3 linked regions of the Homo sapiens genome follow. The protein of the gene in region 3 interacts with the protein of the main gene of each other region in a biochemical or structural test. Each region holds a gene or a part of one and is shown on either strand. Other genes may lie near its edges.

Region 1 (5,663 bases), on a different chromosome or scaffold from region 3:
CAAACCTCTGATGGCATCTCCTTCTCTTCTGCCCACATTTATTCTTCTCCAGATACAAGCAGCGTCACTCTGCCTCACATGTACCAAGTACGCTCCTGCCTCTGGGCTTTTCACTGGCTGTTTCCTGTGACTTGACATAGTCTTCTCCCAGATATATGCATGTCTTGTTCCCTCACCTCTTCCAAGTCTATTAATGTCATCTCTATGAGGCAGGCTTCTGACCATCCCATTTAAATTTCACCTCCCCTGGACTTCCACATTCCTAGTCACCATATCCTTTTTTGTTCATAAGTGAAAACATTCGAATGTATAATATATTTATTTATTATGCTTACTACTTTTTATTGTCTGCATCTCCTCACTAGATTATAAAACCCCATGATGACATGTACTTTTGCCTGTTTTGTTTATTGCCATATTCCTAATATCAGAATTGTACCTGAAGAATAAATATTTGTTGAATGCTGAATAGTCAGATGGGCCCTTATCAAATGCTTATAACCTAAGGTCACTCAGAACTAATTTAAGTGATGATAAACAGCAAAGGAAATCATAAAGAATCAAATTATGAGGGCTTCAGAATAAGCAACCAACCTCTTAGAAGATACCTAAAAGCCAGTAAACTTTGACAATGCATCCCTCGTAACTTTAGTTAGCATTTACTAAGCACCTACTCTGTGAAAGGCATGTGCTTTACACATATTACCTTTAAACCTCATAATAGCCTCAAACAGTACATCTGTTAACCTCCTTGTATTGATGAGAAACAGATTAAATAACTAACTTCTGCAAAGACATGATTCCAAAGCACCTGCTTGTTCCTATCACATTGATTCTTCCTTTTCTTGATGAGTTACTGAGGTAGAGAAATTAGCTGTTAAGTGGGCTACAGTTTTTCTTGCCTCCAGTAAGAATCAAGAGTCCTAAAATGTTAGAATGGCCATAAACTGCTTTTTTGGAATTGTACTCTGTATTGAAGCCATCCTTCCCTCTGGACACCATGTGCAGCTATCAGCAAAAAGGCAGGCTTAACTATGGACTGTACCAAACAGACTAATCTGCGATGACCTAAGAGGATTAAAATAAGTTAAAAAGTAAATCACTGGGTTAAAGCTCAGAATAAGTGATAATTCAAGAGAAAATTCAGAATCAAGTTTAACAAAAACATTATTGTCCTATAACTATTAAATTTATTACCTAGAATATACTCGATAATTCATGCTTGGACTGCCACATGATATTGGCTAAGTCATCTCATTTCTCTAGGCCTCATCTACCTTAATTTTTAAATCAGGGGATTGGCTCTCTAAGGATTCATCAATTTTTACATCCTATAGTTCACACTGAATGACGGTACATTTGCATCATTCTTTAGTTACAACCCTAAACTCACATTTTCATGCCAAGCCTAGAAAAAGAATTGCTAAAGGTCAGGCTACCTCATTCCAGCAGATCTCAGCAAAAGCTGCCTGTCAGGGAACGTGATATCTCAAAACTTCTTTTATGGAATACAAATGCCTTAGCACTCTGAAACTTCATCCAGGTGACACTCAAGGTCACTTTAAATTACTAGTTTTCATCCCAGAGGCCTCCCACTCACTACAATCAATCAGCAGATTTGACACAGAGGAAATGTGGAACTTCTTTTATCCTTTTATAACTTGATACAGGAAAAAAGTGCCTCCAAAGAAAGACCACAATAAAAATGCAAAATATTTCTATATGGCATATATGAGCTAAATGAGAATCACTAATGATTTCAAAAATACTGCCCTCTAAAATAAATACATGCAAAAATAATACACTTGTGGGCTATGTAAGGCATTTTTCTTTATTATTTTTCAGTTTATCTTAGTAATGCCAGAAAAATAACAGCCGTTATTTTCACTTTAAATGCAAACCAAATACTGCTGCACACAGAGTACAAAGATTACCTATGAACATGGTTAGGTACAAAGGCCATATTAGATGTATAGACCACACTTTGTTCTTACATCAAAGACCGACCGACAGAGCAATTTTTTGACAATTATTTTAGCAAATAACCGTGCTACTAAACAAAGGCAAATACACATATATACACAAACACGTCTCAACTAAAATTATACATGTCACTTTGACAAACAAATTCTCTGGTGGTTTCACCAGATATTTGCACCCCAAAGTTCCCTGCCCAAATCCCGACCCCAAATGCTGACTTGATCTGAAGAAAAAAATTAGAGATGTTCTTAATTAAAGGCACATTTGGCAGCTACTGAAAGTGGCATGCATCTGGCACAGGTGCGCTCTCCCTAAGCCACACCACATGTACCTTCCATCATCTGTTATGCATCTTGTTTCTTTGAGTGGTAGTCCAATGTGACCCACTGTTAGCTAATTTGCTTTATAATTCTGCAGCAATTGGCTACTTAATGCACTATTTTCATTAAAGGCAAAAGGGAAATTTGCTCACAGTCGACAGAAAATGCACTTTACGGTGTCAAAAATGGAAAATAAGGCATGGAATTTACTAAACAAGTTACAAGTGCTTTTGTTGTTTAGATTTATAATATAGACTTCATGCTTCTTAAGTAGAGCTCAAAATATTTCATTGGCTCATGTATAAGGGATTATGAAATAATCTTAAAAGTTAGTAATGAGATGTTTCAAAGAAGAAAAATATTGAATAAAGTCATCATGTTCCCTTATAAATAACTTTACTGCATAATTCTTTCAGCCAAACCAATATTAACCTTGTGATGTTTAGTTACTGGTAAAGATTAATGCAATACAACAGGACCTATACTTGCGTAGTCACACAATATATGTTAAAAGAATAAGTAAACCTATTCACAGCAGCAGAATACCAAGAAATAAATGGTTAAACTGTTTCTTTCTAAATCTGAAGGAACAAAAAGGTTTTCTTCAATATGTACAACACTAATAAATTGGGACACTCCTCCTATTTTGCTGAGTCACTTAAAAATCTGAATTTAAGCTGTCATATTAGAAGACAAACAATGAAATACAAGATTAAGCTAAACTTGAGAATTAAGATCATGACCATAAATACCAACTAATTTTTGGTTTACATAAGGTAATTTTTGATTTATGGAGGGAAAAAAACCTTTAAGAATTTAGAATCATAATATAGCCTCCAGCTGACATAGTAATTGTTCTCTGGGCTGTTGTTGACTGTAGTATTAGTGTGGCATGCTCTTTGTCAAATTCAGATCCATTAAAGCATCCTTGAGTTGTTAGAGAATAGTAACCTACTAAACATAATTTGATGCCCAACAACCTTTAATTAAGCGAACTCTCAATGTATGTTTCCTGATAATGTGTAGTCTTAAAATACATCAGCCTTGAAATATTTTCATTTCTAAAAGAAATGTTCCACATTTTGGAATGTGGTTAACAAAAAGTCATGCTGCATTTACCCCCTTGTAATGTCCAGGATTCAAAAGCAGAATTTTGTAATGATGCATTTATCTCCTCAGCCATTTCTGGTCCCTGATTAAATAGATTTTCATTACTACAAGGATAAATTTGTCAACTAGTTAATGTTTCATATTGAGAAGAAGGCAAGGATGCCATTTTCTCACCTCCACCTAAGGGCATCCAATTGGCATTTTTCTAATCAGTTACCACTGCAGAAAATATTTTTACCTAAATGTAACAGTTCAGAATAAAAATATCCTCCATCCACAATGCATGTAAAACTGTTGCACAGTGAAGTGGTCTCCTAGAACCATGGGGTAGAAGAATAGTTCCCTTTGGGAGAAATAGGATTAGAACTCCAAATCTGAATTTTTCCTCTTTATAGACTAGATAGGTTGAAAAGGGGTTATCACCTTATTGAAGGCTAACACATTAGCCGAAGACATACTGAAGGGGGTCCAATGTGACTTTTACCAGGTTCTCATTTGGAATGTGCCTGGGGCAATTAAAAAGAGAAGTAATCCATGAGACATAAAAAGAGAAATCTTAGGGACAATGAGGCTGGCCCAGTATAAAGTCCAGGGAGATTCTGGACTGTCTATCATGATTAGTTGTAGCGGCTCTAGTAAGTTGGCTCACATAAATACTGTTGAATGGATGGTCTTAGGGACACTTTGCATCCAAGAGGGGATTTGAAATTAATGTTTTAGGACGCTTTTCAAAGAGGAAATATTTTATAAAGAGAAGAATGGCTACCATCATAGGAATGGTACAGATATTGAGAAAGGATTCAATTCTAACAAATAAATAAGAAAATAGGATAGACTGCTTAATGATGGTGCAGTTAACATACCTTCTGGTCTTAAAGGACTACATACTGTACTATCGTGATGTACATTTTATGCTCTAATAAATATCATAGGAAATTATTAAAGTACTAGGTTCCCACCATGTTGCAGCACTTCTAAAAATGTCTCTAATGGTGTGGTTAACAGAATTGCTGAAATGTTGCTTCATTATTCAGAGGATACATGCAGATGCTGATGAACCAGATAAACTCTCTAAGGATGGAATACTGCACATTTCACAGACATTATAGTGGAGATTAATAAAATGTTTTCTCTTCAACAAGGTGCATGCATTTCAGTCACAGTATTTGTTAGACTCAGAAGAACAGTACATACGCTTTATGAATAATCCATATTATGATAGTAATGATGCAGGTAGATGTTCTATTATGAATAGTTTTGATAAAGCAGAAAACCTCAAGCAAGGTAGAATGTTCAATATAAACCTTAACAAACTGTATACTTGTTGCTTAGGAACTTAAAACTTACTTACAAAGTTCTGCTTAAAAGATACCCATCCTATTCTAACCAAGTATCTTCCTATATGCCAAGCTGTGACTTTAGATCATTCTTTAAGATTAATACATATATCCAGAACTAGAAACCAAGGCGTACCACAAAACGTGCTTTTATGTTTAGTGTTTTTGTGTGTTTTTCAACTAAAAGAAATAAGAATCAACCATTTTCTTCATATAATAATTTAATATATGCCAGCCAAACAAAGTATTTGTATCTTTATTCAATTAAATTAAAACAGACCTGCCAGGTATATTATATAACATTCACTATATACATATGATTTAGGCAATGCAAGATAATTCTAGATATGCTGATTACTCAACTATGTGTAAAACATGAGCGGTGTCAGTGATGCCCAGCAAGTGCTCCTTTTCACATTGGGTGCCTGCATTTCCATGGTATGGTTAGAGGGATAGCTACGAGCCATGACATGGACTACCAGTAAACTTCTGTGGGAGAAGGAGGGAAAATGACAATCTAGCATAGATGAACAGTCTCCTAAATGCAAATAGAATAGTTGACAGTTATTTTTTTTTAAAAAGTTCTTCTGTCATGTTAATGACACAAAACTTCTCTTTTTTGAAGGCAACACCACCACATTTTGTTTGGGTGTGTGGGGACAGGTGGGGGGAATGCTCTTAAAATTGGTACAATTATTCCTAAAACAACAACAACAACAAAAAAGTACCTCTTTGGTGAAGCCTCGGTACCCATTCAGTTCACCGTAATAATCTGTAAACAGGCCTGTAGTACAGTGCCGGGCCTTGATTTCAACAAGGTCAGGTACCACAGCCTTTCCTCACAGTCCTTTGAGTGATTTTTAAGAAAATATTCTAAAGTAGAAGAGTAAAGCAAAGGAAAACAAAGGAAGATATT
Region 2 (8,660 bases), about 10 Mb from region 3:
CCAGTCCCCTTCTGCTGACTGCTAAACAGCATTTGAATGAATATCCTAATGCATGTAACATTCTTTCCCACTCCCGCCCTTTTTTTTGAGACTGTCTCACTCTGTTGCGCAGGCTGGAGTGCCAGTGGCACGATCTCAGTTCATTGTAACCTTCGCCTCCTGGGCTCAAGCCATCCTCCCACCTCAGCCTCCCAAGTAGCTGGGACTACAGGTGCATACCACCATGCCCAGCTAATTTTTGTATTTTTTTTAGAGATGGGGTTCTGCCATGCTGCCCAGGCTGGTCTTGAACTCCTGAGCTCAAGTGATCCACCTGCCTTGGCCTCCCAGAATGCCAGAATTACAGGTGTGAGCCACCACGCCTGGCCCCTTCTCTTTTTAAAAAACTAGTTTCCTAGGATAAAATACCAGGACTGGGATTATTGGATCAAAGAGTATGGGTGTTTTTTATGGCTCTTGAAACAGGCTGCCAGACTGCTTTCTGAGAAGCCTGTGTTAATTTACGTTGTCACCTATAACGTAAGAGTTCAGGGTTCCATCCTGGGTAATACTGCTATTTTCAGTCTTATTTAATAGGTATAAATTATACACTTTTATATTAAGCCATTAAGAGAAGTAGTGTCACATGGCTTTTAAAGAAAATTGATACTAAAATGTTTAAAATGTTGTTTTTAGAAATATTAAAACACATTTTCACTGGCACTGTTGCTAGAATAACTATTGCAGAGGCCTCATCCCATTTTTCTATATTCTGTTTCAAATGTGCTTCTTAGTAAAATCAAACGTGCTTCTTAGTAAAATCGACAACATTTTATCTAGCTATACAGATAGGAGAAAGGGCTTCTGGATTCTTCTGCCAAGACTTACGGGTCTATGGGCTGGTCCTCTTCTGAAGGGTGTCATGGGAATGAAGGCAGAGTGTCATTCAGCCTGACTCAAGGGGACAGAACAAGGACTGCCATGCGGAAGTCAGGGAAATAGATGCTGAGTCCATTTCCTAACTGACAGGGCTGCCGGGAATGGGAGTATCCAGGGATCAGGAGATAGTGAGCCCTCCGTGGGAAATTTGGGCAGAGCATCAAGGTTATGATAGACAGGATTCCTGTGCCAGGGGTTGGACTGAAATCCTGAGGTTCCCTTTCCTCCATGTCCTGCTTTTCAGGGATAGATGGATGGATGAATAGAGAGAGAGATAGATCAATCAATCGATGGACAGATGAACTGATTGATTTTTCTTCACATGGTTTTTGTTTTGTCCTTGAATAGAGCAGTAGGACTTGGGAACAGAATAGCTCTTGCAGGGTGGTGGGGGCAGAAACTAGAAACTGAGGCAGTTGGGGTATGCGTAGAATCGTGCATGATTTGTGCTCTGATGAGTTTTAGGATTCTTTCAAAACAAAAGAGGAAGGGTTTAAGTTAGACACTAGTAAAAGGAGCTACATTTGTGCCAGGAGGTATTAGGCAGGGAGGGAGAGCAAGCAGTGTCTGTGGAGGGTATGAGTGGAGGTTTGAAGAAGGGCTATGACTGGGAGAGGGTATTTGGGAGTAAGAAGGTGGCCCCTTTCCCCAGAAAGTGTTTCCTGCTGTGGTTTATTTGGACTTTTATTTCTGAGGAGCCACAGCCCCTTCCCCAGATCTAGGACTGAGCCAGGCCCAGCCAGGCCAGCGGCCATCAGAGGCCTGCCTCACATACAGCTCAGGTGGAGCACGGATGGCGTTCTCTTCCTCCTGAGCCCTTGGAATGCCAGAGGCCAGGCCTGGGAGAACCTGGCAACATCCCACCCCACGCCTTTCATCTTTCATTTGAGGAATTAGAGGCCCCGAGTAGGAGAACTGGCCTTGTCAAGAGCAAACAGTTGGTCTGTGGGGCAGTGTCTTCTCAGGGTTTCTGTGGAGTTGGGAGTGACAGGATTTGAGGAAGAAAAGGGAGAGACTTTGGTTTTCAGTTATTTGTGTTTTGTGGCCACAGGCAGCATCCAAGAAGCCTTGCTGAGGGGTTTGGGGGCAGGAAAGCCAGCCCTGGGATCTGGCTGCTGGCTGTGGGGCTGCTTTGAGGGCAGGGAGAGTCGGGGGCTGTGGTCTGGCTGCTGCTGCTCCTGCCTGCTGCCCTCCCCAGCGATGCTGCTTCAGGACTGTCCCCTGCCCCATGGGGCCCTGACCGAGCTGGTCTTCCTTGCAGAGGACGGAGAGGCTGTGAGCAGCTCCTACGAGTCCTACGATGAAGAGGACGGCAGCAAGGGCAAGTCGGCCCCTTACCAGTGGCCCTCGCCGGAGGCCGGCATCGAGCTGATGCGTGACGCCCGCATCTGCGCCTTCCTGTGGCGCAAGAAGTGGCTGGGACAGTGGGCCAAGCAGCTCTGTGTCATCAAGGACAACAGGCTTCTGGTCAGTCTGCCTTACGTCGTCTTGTCCCCCGACTCCTCTCCTTGGGGAAGGGGCAGGGACAGGGAAGGAGGGACAGGATGGTCCCTGACCTCAGAGGTTTCGAGCTTGTTTATGTCAGGAGATTTTAACTTCTCCCTAATCTGAAATTGTATACAGGATTTTGTGTGTATGGATGAATGTACTTTTTCTGAACCAGAAAGGTCTAGTAGTTTCATCAAGTTCTCAAAGGGGGTTGTGACTACCACCGCCTCCCCCATCCCCATCCCATCCTCCTCTTTGTGAGACAGATACATCTTTCTGTCCCCTGGTCCTTTTTCACATCCTGTCCGCTGGAGTCCAGTCAGGCTCCTCCAGCCCAGCCCCAATTCTGGCTACTGTTTTTTGTTGTTGTTTTGTTTTGTTTGTTTGTTGTTGTTTTTGAGACAGAGTCTTGCTCTGTCGCCCAGGCTGCAGTGCAGTGGCGCAATCTTGGCTCACTGCAAGCTCCACCTCCTGGGTTCAAGTGATTCTCCTGCCTCAGCCTCCTGAGTAGCTGGGATTACAGGCGCCCGCCACCACGCCTGGCTAATTTATGTATTTTTAGTAGAGACGGGGTTTCACCATGTTGGTCAGGCTGGTCTCGAACTCCGGACTTTGTGATCTGCCTGCCTCAGCCTCCCAAAGTGCTGGGTTTACAGGCGTGAGCCACTGCGCCCAGCCCTGGCTACTGTTTTTATCTGTGCAGCATGAGAATGCTAGGTATCTTCTCAGAAGCAACAATATTTTGAATTAGTGATTACAAGACCAGACCCAGCAAGGAACCAGACATTACTCTGACAACAGTCCTGTTTCCTGCTATTTTAAATTAAAATTCCCAGTTGCGTGTCCTGATTTGAAATTCCACGGAATTATTATAAACACCTTTTCTTGCCTGGTTACAACAGGCCCTGCTCCGTGCCAATGTTATTTCAAGTAATCCTTTTAAGCAACCCTGTAACCCCATTTTACAAATGGGAAGCCAAGGGATAAAGTATTTTCTCTAGTAGGGGAAGAGTCCTTCCTTTCTTTGTTAATACATCATCTTCCTAACTAGGCAGATAAGAGGCTTAGTTTTTGTGCCTTATGGATCCTTTACTCCAGAAGCCAAGCAAGCAATACAGAGAGGTGGAGAAACAGTGAAAGTCTGTCCACTTTGGAGAACTGAACGGTGAACACAGAGGACGTATTTTAGGCCCTCCAGGCCTGGGGCAAGTTTGAGCCATTTGGATGGCAGCATCCTGGAGCATCCTTGGCTGAGGCCAGTGAGAAGGAGGCTTGAGGGAGAGAGGGACAATCTGATGTGAAGAACAGGAGTTGCTGATATTTGAGGTTAAGGCTCCAGGCCTGCTTCGGGGTGTCCAGCCTCTTAGTCTTGCTGGGTTAAGTCAGGCTCTTGGTGAGTCCTGCAACGTCCAGCGGCCCCTCCTTTGCAGACATCACCTCCGCCCGGCACCCCTGGCAAAGTGGTGTATCTTCTCTCTTTCCTTCCAGTGCTACAAATCCTCCAAGGACCACAGCCCTCAGCTGGACGTGAACCTACTGGGCAGCAGCGTCATTCACAAGGAGAAGCAAGTGCGGAAGAAGGAGCACAAGCTGAAGATCACGCCGATGAATGCCGATGTGATTGTGCTGGGCCTGCAGAGCAAGGACCAGGCTGAGCAGTGGCTCAGGGTGAGGGCGACACCGAGCCACTTGGAGGGGTTCCTAGAGTTGTGGCCCCCAGCTTTTCTAAAGGGATGGATGATAGGGTCAGGGGTAGAGGATTTGTGATCCTTCAAGTTTGCAGGGCTTCCTGTGTTCTAAGTGGTAACGATCTGTCTTCTGCAAATGGGTTACAGCGTGCTGCTGCCAGTTCTGAATCCCCAGTAGCCCGGACTTGGGTGCAGTTGAAATCCATTTCCCTTTTTGCCTTTAGTGAGGCATCCCCCTCCTCCTTATTAAAGAAGAATACATGTCGCTGCCATTTGCCACGTATTTGCCATAGACCCAGGACTATTAGCATCTTTAACCCACGTAACCACACTGGGGATGGCTGGGGAATGTTCATGTCCCCATTTTACAGGAGTGGTGATTAAGGCTCAAAGGATGGAGGTGATGGATCAAAGTCGTCTGCCAAGTGGTGGCAGCATTGGTTCTCAGACCGAGGCCCGTCTACACAGTGCTGTGCCTCCTCCCACCACGAATGCACGTGGCCCACTCTGCCCACGCGTCCCTGGGTGTGATTATGAGGCACTTGGGGAGGGGCTTGCTTGCCTCAGGTGAAAGCTGGGCTTGATGCTTCCAGCGGATGTAAAGTTTGCACCAGGAATGGATCCCCAGTTCCAGAGGGACCTCCAAACCCAGCAGGGACCCTGGTGAGGCCAGTGAGAGCCAGAGCAGCCCTTCCCCTCCTTCCTGCTGCCCCTCCCCTCCTTCCTGCTGCCCCCTCTCCCATCACAACCACTTCAGCCCAGAAGCGTTCTATCCACCCCGCACCCCACCCCACTCCACCTGCCACCCAGCTAAACATAACCACCTTGGCGAGCCTGTCAGAAACAGATCTGGACCGCTGTGGTAAAACAGGACCTCAGTACCCGCCTGAGGCACTGGTCCACCCCTAGGCTGAGTATCCTAGATTTGGAGCAGGCAGGCTGTTTTTGTAAATCCACTAATTGTTTTGGAAATGCCAGGCCTGTCCTAACCAAGCTTCTAGAAGGTGCTGACAGGTATCCCCATCTTTATTGCAAAATCTTCAAGTGGTGAAAGACAGTGGTATGTAGAAAAAGGCCACTGCATAGACAGGTTTGTGGTTTGGCTTCACAGATCTCCATGTAGGGTGGGGTTCCTGAGAGAGCTAACAAGCTCTGAAAGGCCAGCCCTGGGCATTTAAGAGCCAGGGCTCTGAGTTCAAATCCTGGCTTCACCCCTGTTTAGCTGAGTGATTTGGGGCTGGATCCTTTAATGTGCACAAAGTGCTTAGCACTGTGCTTGGTATATACTGAGTGCTCCGTGAAACTTGGATAGTACAGATAAGACCACTGAGGCCCAGAGGGAATGGGGGGCTTGTCCTGGGCTGCAGAGCTGATTAGGACCCAGAGCTCTGGGCTGTTGGTTTCTTACCCCAGTCTCCTGCCTCACCCACTACACACACATACTCATTTGCACACATATATGCACACATGCACATTCATGTATACATTTGTACACACACGGACAAATGCACATGTATGCACATTTGCATACACATTTTTGCTCATGCATGCATTGCGCATGTATATGTACACACACACACACACACACACACACACACACACACACACACACACACTCTGCTCTTGCCCCCAGTTCCCCGCTCTGTTCCTCTGACTGCTCAAATCCACCGATCTTCTCCCTGGCCCCTAGCCTCCCTCCCCAAACTCTCACGCCCTCTTCCTGAGGCCCCTGGCCCCATAGCCTCTGCTGGTGGTTTCAAAGACAAGAACGCTTTCAGCAGGCACAGACTTTCTGTGTCCAGCCTCCACAGAGAGACCCTTCCCCCCAGCTCAGACAAGTGCAGAGGTGGACTTGGCTGGAAATGCCTGCTCTCAGAAGCCGCCCACTCTTGCGCTTTGGCAGTGGGGGCTGGTCCACCTGTCTGATGGGCTCTCCACCTACCTGCATTGGCTTTGTGAAGCCCATCTACCTTCCTTGGACCTCTGTGTCCCAATTCTGCATATCCGCACCCATGCCCAGGGTGAGACAGGTATATGACAGTAAACGGGAGATGCTGACTATGGGACGACGGTCCCAGTAAAGGAAGGCACAAGGCAGGGCTTTTCCCAGGAAGCATGACCCTGCCCCCGCCCCACTCCTGAACTCCTGGCTTAGTGGCACTTTCCCTGGGCAGGGCCATCCGTGTATTTGGCCCAAGCTAATAGGGATGGTAATCCATGTGCCTGCCCTGTGCTGGGTGCTTGACATACAAGCGCTCACAGCTGGCTCGTGGCAAAGGTATTGACCCAGCTTACAGATGCAGTGGCTGAGGCTCAGGCTCAATGTCACACAGGTGCCAACCCTAGTGCCTGTGCTCTTCCTATGACACTGGGTTGCATATTCAGTGTGGACCACAGTCCCGAACTGGAGTTCTTGGGCTCTTCTGATTTGAAACCCATTTCCACAAACTGCTCTAGGCATAGACTGAAAGAGGGGGATCTATGAAATCACTCTAACTAATTCTGCGTTTCCAAAGGGCTTCCAGGTGGGTAGTGTGTTTCTGGTCGCCCTGGGAGTTCCCCCGGCAAGAAGGGAGTGCCCCTGGCTCAGACTGAGGCAATGCTTTCATAGTCAGAGCCACTGCTGACTTTCTGCATCTGCCCCCAGCCCAGGCTCTGTTCCTCTGACTGCCCAAACCCACCTATCCTTTTCCGGACCCAGCCTCCCTTCCCAGAGTCTCACGCCCTCTTCCTGAGACCCCCTGCCCCATAGCCTCTGCTTGGGGTTTCAAAGACAAGAACGCTTTCAGAAGGCACAGCCTTTCTGTGTCCAGCCTTTACAGAGAGACCCTCTTCCTCCACTGGTCAATGAAGCCAGTGAAGAGGCCCCTTCCCAGAGGCGGGCGGGCGGGTGGGTGGCGGCAGGCGAGTCGGGAGAGCCAGAGGGTGGTTGGAACAAGGGAGTTTGCAGGCCTGCTCCTCAGGCAGCGTGGAGACTCCACAGAGAGTTGCATGACCTCTGAAAAGCCAGAGGACTGTCTAGCAAGGCAGTTGTTGATCACGCCTGCAACAGAACAGTAGCCCTGCCTGGAATGGTGGCAGGAAAGGGGCTCGCGGAGCCCTGGGCTGGTGGCTCTGGTCATCTTTGGCCTTTGCTGCCAAGGCCCCCCCTCGCATGCCCATGAACGTGTGGGACCTGCGGAAAGGAGCTAAACAACGAGCCCTCCCCACTGCAGCCTGCCCAGCTGGGTCTGAGGCCACATGCAGGCCTTGGGGCTGGGGTCGGGTGGGTCCTCTTCCTTGGAAATTCATCTTCTCTCTCACCTCCACCCACTCTCCCCTGACCTGCAGGGGCCCTGGCTTCAGCCTGGCTGTGAGTGCTGGCCAGAGGACCTCAGCCTCTGCTGACGGCTTCCCTCTTGCCTCAGGTCATCCAGGAAGTGAGCGGCCTGCCTTCCGAAGGAGCATCTGAAGGAAACCAGTACACCCCGGATGCCCAGCGCTTTAACTGCCAGAAAGTAAGCCTCTGCCCTGCCTGGAGGGAGAGTCCCCTTCCATGTTTTCTCTGTAAAAATTAAAAGTGCAAAATTGGGAGCTTCGTTTTTATATTTCAGTCCAATTAATAAGAAACATACAATGCTTGAGGCCGGGCAGGGTGGGCTCACGCCTGTAAGCCAAGCACTTTGGGAGGCTGAGGCAGGTGGATCACCTGAAGTCAGGGATTTGAGACCAGCCTGGCCAACATGGTGAAACCGTGCCTTTACTAAAAATACAAAAATAGCCAGGCGTGGTGGTGGGCGCCTGTAATCCCAGCTACTCGGGAGCCTGAGGCAGGAGAATCACTTGAACCCAGGAGGCGGAGGTTGCAGTGAGCTGAGATAGCGCCAGTGCACTCCAGCCTGGGTGACAGAGGGAGACTCCATCTCAAAAAAAGAAAAAAGAGAAGAAGAAACATACACTGCTTGGAAAAGAGGAGTAACTCTAGCTTGGCAGGAAAATGGAGGAAACGGATACAGACCTAAAATATTTTCTTGCTTGTAGGTGCCGGGGGTGGGCGAATGGGGAGACAGGGGGAAGCTTTATTGGAACAACAGTCACTTTGGCCTGCATTCTTAAGTAGGGAGATTGATTTTATGAGGCACTTCCTTTCCCCTTATTCCTCAGTAGCGCCTCTGGGCTTGGGGCACTATCTCAAGGCTGATTGCAACCAAAGGGCTGTAGTCCTCATTTGCATGGTGCTTTCGGGGAGCTTTAGGCTTAAAGGTCAAGGCTGAAAAAGTTGAATTAGGTTCTGGCCAAAAGGAGGATCATCACCTGTGGGGTCACATTTCCTGTCCCTGAGTACCTGCAGGTAGGTGTCCTGAAGCGTGGGCACACATAGAACAGCCAGAACATCACTGTGGCTCCTCTTGGGGTCCCCACCCCAGCAGGGAGGAAAACAAGAGGCACACAGAGGGCTCGAGCAGAAAGGAGGCCACTTACTCTCCAGAAGGCACAGGTCATCCCACATGGAGAAATAGCCCACAGTCCTTCCAGATTCCAGAGTGACTCAGGAGGGGCCATTTTTCATTATCTCATTTATTCCTT
Region 3 (9,034 bases):
CCACATCCTCCTTTGGAGCTAACCTGACCTGCATTGCCCTAGCTCTGCCCTGTGCCAGCTGCGAGACCCTAAGCAAGTTGGTGAATTGCTCCAAGTTGCAGTTAATTCATCTGTAAAACAGAATCCAAAAACCTACCCCACATTAGGGTACATTCAATGACCTGCAGGAATCACACGAAAACACGAGTGTTAAGTATGTTTCACCATCGATGGTAACTGCTAAACTGGCTATTATTTGCATTCCCCAAAGAGTCCTGCAGAGGATCAGAACATTCATGATTGGTATTTGTCTGAAATAAACAATCAGGAAATAAAACAACTGTGAAAGTGCAATACCTCCCAAATCCAAATAGATACAATTTCTTGTTTGTTTTAGATAAACGAGCTTTTCTCTACCACATGAATTGATATATACCTATACCTGCCTGTGAGCACAAAGAACCCGGTGGACCTGAATTCAAATCTTTACTGAAAAACTTTCAAACGAAGGAATCTGCATTCTGCATCCAGCATCATCAGGACCATTTTCAAGACAAGCGGTCAGAGGCCAAAGCCAGTTTACCTAGGGTCTCCCCAGGCACAGCTCAGAAAGCCAGGAAAGGAGCCTAGCTTCATGCCAGGGAGCCTGACCTTAGTAGCAGCTGCCTGCCCTTCTCAACCCCACCCCAAGCAGGGGCCTGGCAGAGAAGAAGGAAGCCAGGGCTGAGTGCCATCCCCATGATGGAAGCTACTTGCGTGCCTTCATGAACTGACCGAAAGCACAGGACCCTTCGTGTTCAGGCAGCTCCCCCTCCCCGTGGGGATGAGCAAACCCTTTGCAGAATGTCCTGAGAGAACCTTTGCAGTGTGTTCCCAGCACTCTGGAGCCAGCAGAGCTCCTCCTGCGTGGGCCCCAGGCCTCTCATCGGCTAGCTCTGGCTAACACGCACATCCCGTAAAACCTCTCTGCTCTGCAATTTACCAAACCACAGACTCAGAATTCACCATCAGCAGAGGAAAGGCTGGAAGGAGGCTTGCTCCTCCAGTGTAGAGGGTTTCCAGAACACAGGCAATGGGTGCAGCACGTCCTGCCAGCTGACCACACCAGAGGGCCTTACTCACAACACTTGAGCTTTTGGTGTGTGGTATTCACCGTGCAAGGGCCAGGAGAGGAAGAGGCTGCAGCCTCCCCAAACCCGCTCCTCCTGCCCCTGTCTGTCCCACCAGGCCCTTTCTATTGCTTTCTTTCCCCCTTTCAATTATTGGATATGCTTATGTTATGTATTAATATATACAATGCCCCAAATGGGTAGAAACTTTTTGACCACCAGTTATTTGTCCTCTTAGCCAAACCCAACTGGACTTAGGGTACATGCAATGAAAAAAACCCAGCTGTGAGCAGCTGTGTTGCAAGTTACTTTACCCAATCTGGCTCTCCATTTCCTCATCTGTAAAATGAAGGAGTTGAGCCAGATGAGTCTTCGGGTCTCTGCCCGTTCCACAATTCCACAACATGTAACACTTTCTCCTCTCAGTGTTTTCCAGAACTCTAGTTCAGAACTCTGCATGGCCCCATCTGTTCAGTGACATCACTCCCTGCCCCCCCAAACATAATGTCATCGATTCTTACTCGGGAAGCGGAGATGTCCCGGGAAACACTTTGTCTGTAAAAAGGAAGGAAATGATCATTTCGAGGGAACTGGACAGGACTTCTTTTGTGTTTTTCACATAGAACAAGTTATTATCAATCTTAAAACCCAAAATCTTTCTTCCTTTTTGCCAGACCATTAATAGCTGCTTTTCAAAAATACTTTCTTAGTCAGAATCTCACCAATAATAAGCTACCATTTAATAAGAGCTTACTGCGTGCCAGGAACTGGGCTAAGTGCTTTACATAGATGATCTCATTTAATTCTCCCAACAAGTACATACTATTATTATCCTTACTTGAAATTGAGTAAACTGAGGCTGGGGGAGGTTTAAATAACTTGCCAAGGTGGCACAGCTAGTTACTGGCTGCATGCCAGGCTTTGAGCAAGACCGTCTAACTTCAGAACCCCAGCACGCAATCTTGCCTTTCAATCCTGTCTGCAGTGGGCCCCGGTTCTAGTTTGTTACCAGTGTGTCCTGCATCTGCAACCTTGGGCACCATCGGTGGGAGCTGAAATGTGATGTTTCATTTAAAATCCAGAGTTGGAAACGCACCTGCCTGGGTCTCAGAGCAGAGTGCCATCTGTTGAATGCAGTGCCAAGCTCAGCTGAGGACTACAAATGAGAACCCTTAAAACTTAGCCTGCAACATTTGAGAAAAATAAACCCTGGGATATACAAAGGGACATCTGTCCACAGAGCAGGTTGACCACCTGGTGACCCAAGCCCTCCAAAAAGAGCTTTCTTGTAACAGCAGCAGAAAATGCTTGCTGGACCAGATGACACAAAAGAAACAACTCTCTAAGGGTGTCAGGGACTGGACCCGACAGGCACCCACCTCCCTGCCTAGTCAACCTGCCTCCACATTTACCTCCTCCCCATATGAGCCCAGCCGCATTTGCTCAGCTGTAAAGAAACTCAAAGTTCAGAGCTACACTGGTGACAAAGGCAAAAAGAGTAGCCCGAGGCTGACATTGCCACAAACCCCAGTCCCTTTGCAACAGTGGAAGAAAAGGCACTTCAGAGATCAATGTACAATCCAGGGCAGCAACCAGCGCCTGTTTTAACTGTTAAGATTAATGCTTTGAGCACTGGAACTGCTCCTCTAAATACCCAATTTGCAAATAACATGCAGTCCTCTGTGCTTGGGTCTCTTCTATCTCAAGTACAGGAGCACAGACGCTCAGAGGGGTCAAGGACACCGTGTTTACTTCCTAAGGTGTGAGGGATGGGAAGACAGGACCGGCTGAGATGAAAGGGGAACTGTCACATAGGCTCTGGAGCTGCCCCAGTCAACCTTAACCCCTTCTCATTAAAGTTTGGGGGAGGAAGGGGGAGGGGCGGTTCCTCGGAGACCACAGCAAACATTCGCCTCCTCGTGTCTGGAGATGGAGCATCACTTAAGAGGAAATGAACCCGGTTAAGGGTCACGTCCAGAGGAGGGATAAAAGGAAAAGCCACAATTCTCCTCACACCGACGGACACAATGGCTTTATGAGGGAAATCAAAGCTTAGCGCGGAGGGTGGAGGTTGGGCAAGGGGGCGGCGGCTTCCTTCTGCCCCCAGCCCCAGGCCTAGGAAGGCAGAGACAGAGCTGGCGTGGGAGGCAGGGCGCGAGGCTTCCTTCTCCAGGGCGAGCTCTGAAAGCATCTCGGGCTGTGTGAGCGTGAGCGCCCAGGGCCCCTGGGGAGGGCCGAGGAGATGCGCTTTCCCGACGGGGCTGCTCTGTGAGGGGTTGACGAAAGCTCCCCCCACCATCCATCAAAGGCGGACAGATGACTTCACCGTTGTAACAGACAAGGGCAGCCACTTGCCAATTCCAATGCCAAAAAAAGAAACCGGGGGGGCGGGGGTGCGAAGGAGGAAGGACAGAAGAGGCTTCCCTGGAGATCACAGCCCTGCGAAGAAACTCCACGGCTGCTGGCTGCCCAGTGGGCGCTTAGCTTCGCGACCTCACAGCTGGGAGGGGCAAGGGGCCATCCGGGGCCCTCCCGGGACCTCGGGCCACCCCCAGCAGGGTCGGCGGGGGCTGTACTCACGTAGTGCTTGGAGGGGTTCCTCCGCTTCTCCACGTCCACCACGGTGGCATCCTGCACGCAGTAGGCGAGCATCTTCCCCCACAAAGCGAGTGGCGCCCCCGGCGGCGTCACCTTCTCATCCCGGCCGGGCTCCGGCTCCTTCTCCAGCTGCCGGGGTCCCGGGGCCGCCCGCCACCCCGGCCCGGCGCGCCGAACGCTGCCCGGACTCCCGGCGCCCACAGGTCCGGCCCAGGGACGGGGGAGGGTCCCGGAGGGCGCGCGGGCTCCGTGCGCCCCGGGGGACTCCCCGCCGGCCTGCCGCGCGCCCCTTCACTCCCGCGCGGCCGCCGCGCTGCGCTCGCCCGCTCGCTCTCTCCGCCGCCCGGTGGGTCCGGCGGGAACTGGCGGAGCAGAGGAGGGGCGGGGGTGTGTCCCGTCGGCGAGGGGACGGGGCGGGGGCCCCGGAGCCTGCTGTCAGCGTCCTGGGGAGGGGCCGGCGGCTCCCCTTCGCCGCTCTCCGGCTCGGGCTCCGGGGGGATCGGCGCTGGCGGAGGCTGTGGGCGCAGGAGGCGGAGGCAGGGCCTGGCAGGCAGGGAAGGGAAGGGAGGGAGGGGAGAGAGGGGAAGCGCGCGGGGAGGGGCTCCGGGCCGGGGGAGGGGCTCGGGGCGACGGGGAGGGGGCTGCAGCCCGGCCCCAGTGGCAGGGGCGGGCCGACGAGCCCCCACCCGAGCCCAGCGCGCAGCCAGCGGCCTGGCGCAGCACCGGGCTAGTTCGCTAGGCACAAAAACTCAGGGTGGCTTCGGGGGGAGAGGGAGCGGGGAAAGTGAGCCCCGCGCGCCCCCATCCTGGCTTTCCGCCTCGGAGCGGATTTGTGCCTTTTTGTCCCCACTTTTATGTCCCCCTACAACTTCCACCCCCAGATCTCTTTAATGAGAAGTAGTTTATTACCCGGCTGTTACTGCCCAGGCCCCCGAGGAGGAGATGGGAATGGGGAAAAGGCCAGCTTTAAATCCTTCAAGCCAGAGCCTCTTTGGACGAACCACCTGACCCTCTGCAGGTCATAAAGGGTGAATTCTCCCCGGAAAAGTGATCGATTCGTTGCCTGAGTCGTCCATCGATCTGGGCTTGTGTAACTACCCTGTGCATCATTTACCAATGACAACGTTACAGACTCTGCATAACACCACTGCCTTAAGCCCAGGGCTCCCCTGGGGACCCTCCCCAAGCTGGCGACAGGGAAAGGAGCATACAATGGTGGGAAAACCCACCCGGTTGGAGGCCAGCTCACCGTGAGCCCCAGGCTCTGGCATTCTCACCCCTCCCTCTAGTCTGGAAAACCCACTTTCCAAGCCACTTGTCCGTGGTCCCTGGACTTGGAGCACAGTTACTACTTAATTCAATGTAGCTTCCCCCCTTCTAGTTCAACATTTTTTTCCCATTCTGCTTTCAAACATTTAAAGGGTAGTGTTTTCACAACTACTCCAGTTGTTACACAATCACAATAAAGCTTTGTGACTGTGGACCAATGTGAAACATCTGAAAAGAGGACAAATAATTTTGTGACCTAATTGCATTAATACTTTCTTCTGCGCGTTCTCTAGACTGTCAGAACCCAGGCACAGATCTAAGGCTTTATTTATTCACATATTTGCTCCATACAGAGTAACCCACTATTCCTCCAACCTTCCTGGGGAAGGGCGCTAGGACACCAAACGATGGCACGGGACAAAGAAAAAAAAAGATGGATGGGCCTAGGGGGCTCAGACTGTGAGAGATCTTGGCACCAGGCCAGAGCTTCTTGGTCAGAGAAGATGACAGAAAACCTTTGTGAATGTTGGAGCAGGAGTCCTGGGGGAAGGTGCACCTGGTAATGTTGCTCAGCTGATGGGAAAATGGGAGGACAGGGCACTACCTCCATGAGCAAGGATTATTCCCTGAAGGGATGAGAGGTAGACCTGGAACGGGCCCTCCATATTGAGCTCCCGAACTTGGGAGGGTGCTGGCCAGCTCCAGGTCCTCTCTGATGATGGATCAAGACAGCCTGTGAGTTTGTGAGGAAGAGATTCATCATGGCTCTCGGATAACTCGTCTTCTGTGGATGGCAAAGTCTTCTGGAAGTGCTAATAAAACCTGAGAAGCCACCAGCGAGGGGAGCTGGTGTTTAGCTGTTGTGGGGGGAAGAAGAGGAGGGGGTTTAGTTTGATTTGGGTCCCCTTGTGAATCAAAGCAGTCAGCTCATCTAAAACAGCACTAGTGGTTTCCTTATTACCCTTCTTTCGGACCCAGATCCACAATGAACACACCAAGCACAATAAATTTGTAGGAGAGAGGGCCCAGTTCTTCCCCACTTCCTAGCGGCCTACAAAGTGGTAGCCTTTCTCCTGCCTAAAAGACTCCCTGCAACTTGACATTTTATAAATTCAGGCCTTTAAGCCTGACTTGAGCATACTCCCAACTTCCCCCTTTGTTCCGTAATTACCTTTATTGGAGGGAGCAACTGAGTGCTCCCCACTCAACCCCATGGTGCCAAGATCTGGGCAGAAGTTATTTCTACCTGTGGGAGAAAAATGTCTTTTCTGTACTGGGGCCGTATGTCCAAGGGGATTTAAGTATGAAATGGTGCAGGCTATCTCTTCTCTGGGTACATTTCAACCTCATGCAGATTTATTTCCCACAGTGCCTTGGGAATTCCTTTCTGTTCAATACACATTTATTGAATGCCTCACATGTGCCTGGCAATCCCCCAAAAATGACAGAGACTGGGGGAAGTTTCCTTGGAAACAAGGACTGTGCATCATTCATTAAATACCCCAACTATGCGTGGCACACAGTAGGTATATAGGATGGCCTGTGTTGAAAACATCTGCTCAAAGAGCTAGTGCTAGAAAGGATTAGAGAAACCCCTATTTTGCCACCTCCGCCCATGAACTGGAGATGACTCCAACCTAAGGACATTGTGTGAGTTAAAAATGACAAAATATAATTGCAAATTTTTTTTTAAGTTTAGGATAAGTAAGGGAAAGAGAAGCCAACATAAAGATGCAAACTGATACCTGAAAATCTGATTTTCGAAAACAGGTAATTGTAGAATGCTTAGAATCAAAGAACTTTCCAACTAGAAGGGACAAGAGAGGTTATTTATTTCTCTTATTTTACAGAGGAAGAAACCAAGGCCAAGAAAAACTAAGCAAGTTGCTTGATGCCACATAGCCAGTTAGTCCAAAGCCCGCTGTCTTTCCCCTCCACATTTATGTGCCTATACTAGGGCAAGAAGAGCTTGTTTAAAGGGCACACTTAGCACACCTGCAGGTCTAGAATGTTGCATTCACTCAAACCCTGGAGTCCCTGGTTCCAGTTCTCCATTCACACAAGCATATGAACTCGTGATGCCTGGACTTCCCAATAAAGAGGACTGTACAATCCTCTAGAGCAGAGGCCGTGTGTGTCTCCATGGTCCTCTGTGTACGTGCAAATTCCATCAGCTCCCCTAAAGCAGAACCCGCCCTACCTCCTCTCCCATGTAGGGTCTTTGTGACCACCCCCAAAGAAGACAACATGCAGGAAAGTACTGGAAACCACAGTGGGCTATATGAAAGCACAAGAGAACCTTCTCTTCCTCTTCAGAAATCGAATGACAATTGCTAATCATACATTTGTTTACTAATCATACATCACCCTATGACAGCTCAGCCTTCACTGTATTGAACCTTATTTATATCTTTTATTGTTATTTAACTTTCCTGTGCTTTAGGTTGTGCCTTCTAAACCAGTAAGAAGCCTTTGAAGGCCTTGAGGACCATGAACTTAGACATGGACACCACCCTTTCCCTCCCCACCCCCATCATCCAGCACCTCTGTCACCTGCCACACACACCTGCCCACCCAGCGCAGAGCTTTATACATGCCAGGCCCTCAATAAATGGTTGTCTTTTTAAATTACTGGGATCTCAGCAGATATTTGTAGATAATGCTGGGGCTAAGTAATGCCTAAGAAGAAGAAGAATTGGAGTCTCAGAGCAGGAATTACCCAACCTGGGTTCTACTCCTGGCTTAACCACAAACCAGCCTGTGACCTTGAAGTTCTTTCCCACGTCTGGGTCTCTGGTGCTCTTTCTGGCCCTTTCCATGCTGTACAGTGGTGGATAACTTACATAAACTGAGGTCTAGCAAGACTCTCCCCGAGTTGTGTAAATTTGAGTGAAATTTGGGGCCCTCTTCTGGCCAAAGTGGTTTTAGCACTTTTACCTCCTGCCACAGGGACAGGCAGGAGGGCCTGGGACGAATAACCTGCCCTTCTACAGACTGTAAGCGGTCCAGCGCTCATGCTTCTGTCTCTGCTTCTTCTCATCCTCCTCCTCCTTTTTCTTCTCCCCCACTCCCTTTCTCTCTCAAATCAGCCCTGATATATTTATTGACTTATGTTTGGGGAGTGTCTTGAGGACGGTCCCACCGGAGTGTGGAGCAGACAGCAAGGCCAACTGCCCAGGGAAGTAAATTGCTTGTCAGGCTTCTCCTCTCCTTGCTGGGGAACAGGACCAGGATATGGCCCCAGAACTGCCCTACCACCCAGCCCCACTGTTCACGAATTTTAGCCATACTAACAGGCCCCTCCTGTTGCCAAACTACCAGATGGTGGAAGCCGCCTCCGTCTGACACCCAGCACAGTAAGTTCATCAGCAAAATCTCAACATGCTTCTTTACACGGTCCCTTGAGAGTCTCACTCTCCTGTCTTAGCCTGGATTCCGGTGAGGGTCCGTGTGCAGCAGCAGGTTTTGATAGAACCACTTGAAATTCCAGCCTTAGCAAGTGGTCACGCCCTGGAATACCAGAGGGAAATCCGGGAACTTGCACAGCCAAAGAGGCCAAGGGCATAATTAGATTCACAGAGGAAAACAATATTATTCCATAACTCCAGGCTGCATCCCTAACCCTGACCAGACATCTGGCCCCCAAACTAGTGCATTGTGTTTTAAGACCTTCAGGAACGAGTGTGGGTGGTTTCATACAGTCTATCTCAACAATTGAACACACCTTGACGTGTATTCCTGGCTGGGAGGGGGTTGCCAGCATCATCTGGGTATAAAAGATCAGCCTGTATAGTTCTGTTTTAGTGATAAACCACCACAGATTTTCTTTTTCAAAATCCCCTGGATTTTCCAGAATCCAGCAAACCCTGAGTTGGCCTCTGGAAGACAAAAAGAATAGAAAAGAAAAATACCAGGGGGAATTCAAAGGCAGTTTCTTTAAAAATAGCCTGAAGCCACAAATAACCAAAAATATGAATCTGGTTTTGGTTTTATCCTGTCTTTTTTTTTTCAATTCTCTATTCAGAAATGGCATAGAAATTACTGTTCTTTGTCCTGTTTGAATCCACACGTCTCTTTCA

The links.
Region 1: the proteins of SH3PXD2A (region 3) and SOS1 interact in a biophysical measurement, tested with the Homo sapiens proteins (one study listed by IntAct).
Region 2: the proteins of SH3PXD2A (region 3) and AFAP1L2 form a complex in vitro, tested with the Homo sapiens proteins (one study listed by BioGRID).

What each region holds. Positions count from the first base shown.
Region 1 is NC_000002.12:38,979,744-38,985,406, forward strand, and holds the end of SOS1 (son of sevenless homolog 1), read right to left. Parts: 3' UTR 5,621-5,663; coding exon of another isoform or gene 5,567-5,620; 3' UTR 1,806-5,566; downstream 1-1,805.
Region 2 is NC_000010.11:114,309,285-114,317,944, reverse strand, and holds part of AFAP1L2 (actin filament-associated protein 1-like 2), read left to right. Parts: intron 1-2,179; coding exon 2,180-2,385; intron 2,386-3,894; coding exon 3,895-4,074; intron 4,075-7,501; coding exon 7,502-7,591; intron 7,592-8,660. UniProt on the Homo sapiens protein: May play a role in a signaling cascade by enhancing the kinase activity of SRC. Contributes to SRC-regulated transcription activation.
Region 3 is NC_000010.11:103,851,527-103,860,560, forward strand, and holds the start of SH3PXD2A (SH3 and PX domain-containing protein 2A), read right to left. Parts: upstream 4,051-9,034; 5' UTR 3,741-4,050; coding exon 3,669-3,740; intron 1-3,668. UniProt on the Homo sapiens protein: Adapter protein involved in invadopodia and podosome formation, extracellular matrix degradation and invasiveness of some cancer cells. Binds matrix metalloproteinases (ADAMs), NADPH oxidases (NOXs) and phosphoinositides.